2 separate regions of the Homo sapiens genome follow, and region 1 is linked to region 2. The links come from fine-mapping of genetic effects on gene expression. A gene starts in region 2. The other region holds a variant in brackets. All regions are shown on one strand. Distances are from middle to middle.

What was found. PIP is the estimated chance that this variant, and not a neighbour inherited with it, causes the effect.
Region 1: its variant is the best candidate, but not a certain one, in a credible set for the expression of CYP7A1 in spleen (GTEx, PIP 0.74).

Annotation. Positions count from the first base shown.
Region 1 is chr8:57,713,786-57,716,721 of GRCh38, reverse strand. No RefSeq gene overlaps it. Among named protein-coding and RNA genes, the nearest start is that of LINC03018, 31 kb to the left of the region's middle. The variant C/A (reference allele first, on the strand shown) is at 1,581.
Region 2 is chr8:58,498,569-58,501,504 of GRCh38, reverse strand. CYP7A1 (cytochrome P450 family 7 subfamily A member 1) reads left to right here and starts at 1,342. Exons shown (of 6, transcript NM_000780.4): 1 at 1,342-1,486. The coding sequence starts at 1,407. RefSeq lists an enhancer at 911-1,132, a promoter at 1-1,366 and a silencer at 1,464-2,936.

The sequences.
Region 1 (2,936 bases), 780 kb after region 2:
ACTATGATTTCATTCTCAACCAGTCAGCAGTACCAATTCCCTGGCCCCCTGCCCACCAAACTGTCTATAAAAACCCCAGCCTCTGAGACTTTGGAGAGACTGATTTGAGTGATTACTCCAGTTCAAGTTCAAGATCAAGATGTCAGCAGCTTTGGTTTTTCCTGAGGCCTCTCTCTTTGGCTTGCAAATGACCATCTTCTCCTTGTGCTTCACATGAGCTTTCTTCTGTGCTTGTCTGTGTCCTAATCTCCTTCTTATAAGGACACCAGTCATGTTGGATTAGGACCCATCCTAATTATTTCATTTAACCTTAGTTACCTTTATAAAGGCCCTGTCTCCAAAACAGTCACATTCAGAGACACTGGGGGTTAGGACTTCAGCACGTGAGTTTAGGGGAGATGTACTTAAGCCCTTTGGGAAAGAAAAAATATTAGAGACTTTCACTGGGGAATCCTCATCAAGATATGTACTTCAGAAAGATTAATCTAGAGGCCATGGATAACATGGATGGCCAGGAGAGAAGAGTAGAGGCCAGCTGGAAGGTCACTGCTCCAACCCTGGGAAGAAATAAAGAGATCTGAAACACAATCATGCCATTGATGACAAAAAGACAGAGTAGAGGAAAAGTATTTCTCCAAGTAAGAATAGTTGGAACTCTCCAGTGGGTTGGATGTGGGGAGCATGGAAGTGACAGGAGTTGATTATCAGCTCAGATAAATGTCTTCAACACAAACAGAAGCATAGCAGGAAGAACCGTTTGAAAGTTTTTTAAAAAGGTGATTATTTGCAACACATCGAGATTGAACTACCAACATCTCCAGATGGAAGTGTCTGCTGTAAACTGGAAATGAGGGGCTTGAATATTGGAGAGGGGCCAGGCTTAGACATATGGTTGTGGGAGTCATTTATTGATCAGCAGAATCTTTAGAGTTAATGAGATTCCCAATGGAGACTGTCAAGAGAGGCACGTGTGTACAGGACTGGTCAGTTGGGAGTGTCTGCATTTAAGGGATGCACCAAGAAAGGCCATCAAAAGAAGGGACAGAAAGAGGTAAAGGAAGAACAAGAGAATGTTATTTAAGCCAATGGAGGGGTTTCCAGAGGCAAACATGGCTGCTCCACAGATATTTGTTAGATAAGTGACCAGTGAATAAATGACTAAATAAACAAATAAAAATGTTTTTGGTCACATACCTTTTGCTTACCAAAGTCTAATATATCTGAGTTTATTTGCTCCATAAATTGGCTCACTGAGAACAAAGCAATAGAGTTTTCCTAGGTGTCAAGTTCTAAAAAACAGAATTCTTTATTATTATTATTATTATTATACTTTAAGTTCTAGGGTACAAGTGCACAACGTGCAGGTTTGTTACATATGTATACATGTGTTATGTTGGTGTGCTGCACCCATTAACTCATCATTTACATTAGGTATATCTCCTAATGCTATCCCTCCCCTCTCCCCCTACCCCACGACAGGCCCCAGTGTGTGATGTTCCCGATCCTGTGTCCAAGTGTTCTCATTGTTCAATTCCCACCTATGAGTGAGGAGATGCAGTGTTTAGTTTTCTGTCCTTGCA[C/A]TAGTTTGCTGAGAATGATTGTTTCCAGCTTCATCCATGTCCCTGCAAAGGACATGAACTCATCATTTTTTATAGCTGCATAGTATTCCATGGTGTATATGTGCCACATTTTCTTAATCCAGTCTATCATTGTTGGACATTTGTGTTGGTTCCAAGACTTTGCTATTGTGAATAATGCTGCAGTAAACATACGTGTGCATGTGTCTTTATAGCAGCATGATTTATAATCCTTTGGGTATATACCCAGTAATAGGATGGCTGGATCAAATGGTATTTCTAGTTCTAGATCCTTGAGGAATCACCACACTGTTTTCCACAATGGTTGAGCTGGTTTACAGTCCCACCAACAGTGTAAAAGTGTTCCTATTTCTCCACATCCTCTCCAGCACCTGTTGTTTCCTGACTTTTTAATGATCACCATTCTAACTGGTGTGAGATGGTATCTCATTGTGGTTTTGATTTGCATTTCTCTGATGGCCAGTGATGATGAGCATTTTTTCATGTGTCTGTTGGCTGCATAAATGTCTTCTTTTGAGAAGTGTCTGTTTATATCCTTTGCCCACTTTTTGATGGGGTTGTTTGATTTTTTCTTGTAAATTTGTTTAAGTTCTTTGTAAATTCTGGATATTAGCCCTTTGTCAGATGAGTAGATTGTAAACATTTTCTCCCATTCTGTAGGTTGCCTGTTCACTCTGATGGTGGTTTCTTTTGCTGTGCAGAAGCTCTTTAGTTTAATTAGATCCCATTTGTCAATTTTGGCTTTTGTTGCCATTGCTTTTGGTGTTTTAGTCGTGAAATCCTTCCCCATGCCTATGTCCTGAATGGTATTGCCTAAGTTTTCTTCTAGGGTTTTTATGGTTTTAGGTCTAACATTTAAGTCTTTAATCCATCTTGAGTTAATTTTTGTATAAAGTATAAGGAAGGGATCCAGTTTCAGCTTTCTACATGTGGCTAGCCAGTTTTCCCAGCACCATTTATTGATGGGGAAAGGATTCCCTATTTAATAAAAACCAGAATTGTTTATTAATATCTCACCCATCTATCCTCTCATGTAAATATGAAAATGGGAACTCTATCCAGCACTCTTTTGGAATTCACAAAATAGCAGGAAGTGTACTAGGAAATGGGTGTTTAAGGACCTTCCTGACCCTGTCTTTCAGCCTGGGTCGTATTAAGGTGCCACCATGCTTGGGGCTTCCTGGGGGTAGGGACCATGCTGACTTGTGGCCAAAGGATCTGGAACTCTTCCAGGCACACACAAAAAAATGAATCTCTGTCCCTCTGAACCTTGCCATCTGTGGTGTGAGAGACATAGCTTCAGATACACGAGCTGCTCCAGAGCCCCAGCTAAATACA
Region 2 (2,936 bases):
GATACACACATGTATAAATATAGAGAATACTGTGGGTGTATGTGTGTGTGTGTTTATATACATATATATACACACACAGTACTGTTGCCTACCTTCTTTTGTCTTAATTCTGTGAACTCTCATTCACTCTGCTTCAGTAGGATACATCCTTCTTTTTGGTTCTTAGACTCACCAAGTTGATCCTTGACTCAAGACATTGCATTTGCTGCTTCCTCTTCCTGGAATATCCTTCCTTCTGATATTCACATGAGTAGTCTCTTCTTGTCATTCAGATCTCAAATGTCACAATTTCAGAGAGCCCATCTCTGATCATCATATCTAAAGTTGTCCTCATTCCCCCATAGCTTTCTATACCATGTTTTATTTTTTTCATAACATGTATTTTATTACTCCTTTCTCCATTGGAATAGAATCTCCATTAGATTAGGAAATCTGCCTATCTTATTAATGCCTGCAACTGGAATACTTTTGAAGAGTTCTTGGCACGTAATAAATACTCAACTAATATTTTTGTGTACACAGAAATAAAGTTTGGAAGAACAGATGCCAAATTGTTACTAGTGGTTACTTCTGAGTAAAGGAGTAGCATGGTAGGTAAATTATTAATAGATGTTCACTTTCCACCAAGATATGTTTTAGTTAGTCTTAACTTACTTGAAATGAAATTTATTACTTTAATAATTAGAAACATTGATAAACATTTTAGTCACAAGAATGATAGATAAAATTTTGATGCTTCCAATAAGTTATATTTATCTAGAGGATGCACTTATGTAGAATACTCTCTTGAGGATGTTAGGTGAGTAACATGTTACTATATGTAGTAAAATATCTATGATTTTATAAAAGCACTGAAACATGAAGCAGCAGAAATGTTTTTCCCAGTTCTCTTTCCTCTGAACTTGATCACCGTCTCTCTGGCAAAGCACCTAAATTAATTCTTCTTTAAAAGTTAACAAGACCAAATTATAAGCTTGATGAATAACTCATTCTTATCTTTCTTTAAATGATTATAGTTTATGTATTTATTAGCTATGCCCATCTTAAACAGGTTTATTTGTTCTTTTTACACATACCAAACTCTTAATATTAGCTGTTGTCCCCAGGTCCGAATGTTAAGTCAACATATATTTGAGAGACCTTCAACTTATCAAGTATTGCAGGTCTCTGATTGCTTTGGAACCACTTCTGATACCTGTGGACTTAGTTCAAGGCCAGTTACTACCACTTTTTTTTTTCTAATAGAATGAACAAATGGCTAATTGTTTGCTTTGTCAACCAAGCTCAAGTTAATGGATCTGGATACTATGTATATAAAAAGCCTAGCTTGAGTCTCTTTTCAGTGGCATCCTTCCCTTTCTAATCAGAGATTTTCTTCCTCAGAGATTTTGGCCTAGATTTGCAAAATGATGACCACATCTTTGATTTGGGGGATTGCTATAGCAGCATGCTGTTGTCTATGGCTTATTCTTGGAATTAGGAGAAGGTAAGTAATGTTTTATCTTTAAATTGCTCTTTGATTCATCCATTTAATTTTTTTACCTTCATTTTTATACAGTAAATTTGGTTTTCTATACTTACACATATTAGCATTATCTTCCTTATTTTTTAAATGAAAAATTTGATTTGAATTTTTAAAGTAATATCTTTTTTACTATATCTCACAAGACATATGACAGCTTCCCTTTTTAGTATTGGCATATACCGATGGTAATATATAAATGTATATTGGTGTTAAACATAACTGACAGAAATTGTATAAGGTCTCTATGTACATTTATATGTGTATCTAAAGAGGAAGCCCAGATTAGTAAGGATACAAGTAGCAAGTGGGAATCTACAATGGAAAGGATTGCTTTCTCTCACATGGCTTCAATAGATACTCTTGTTAAATAAATGTTCTCTTTTAAGCTCATTCTTGTGCATCGCATAGACTCAGCCTAAGCCTGAACAAGAGCATAGAGCCTGAGCTGATCATTCTATTACTGTTTTTAAATAAATGTTAATCAACTGTGGTGAATTGGGAAAGTTTGCTGAGTGTATGTGACATCGATTTCATTTATTTACAACTGGTTCAAGAATGCAAGAAAAACAAATACAGTCAGATCCAGAACCATAGTTTATTTAACTTCTAATTGGCTCAAGGAGTAATTGTGGGGAGGCATATAGATATTCTCTGCTATGTCAATCTCAAAAAGAGAAAATAACCCTAACCATCTTTCAGCTTTGTAGATTGCTATGTGTTTTCTGCCTTTTGCAGTTTCTTTCAGGCCTGATAGTTTTTACTTTTAATTAAACTACTTATCTTCAAACTAAGAAAAGAAAGGTAATTACTTTATACTGTATTATTCTATCAAGAGGTACAGAAGTTTATGTTGGAAAATAAGTTTACATGTTCTAATAAAAACATTTTAAAGGAGCACTGAATTACAATAGATGATTCCGTCAGTGTTTATCTTACTCAATTTCATTTTATAATAAGCTGATTTCTCACATGAGATTCTTCTTCTCTGAAACCATCCTTATAGAATATAATATAGATATCTTTAAACTAGGAATATTTTCAAAACCTCAGTTCTGAAATCCTCCCTTATTCAGTGATCTGTGTCTTTAAAGAAAATAATCAAAAGAAACATTTTGAGATATTTAGAAAAATGATGCTTAGCAAAGTGATAAACACTAGAATGTAGTTTTGTTTCCGCACTGACAACAAGAATCTTGTTGGTCTTGTAAATCCTTTTGCCTGTATCACTGGGAAAAGTGATGAGCACATAGTAGACGGGTGCTTGTTGAATGTGTATATGGACGGATGCATGAATGGATGGATTTAGTAATCCTTTCCACCAACATATCATGTTACTAGGTTAATATAACCTATTACTGTAGTAAAAGAGCAGGGCCCATCCAACAAAAGAAATATCTATAAACTATAGGGT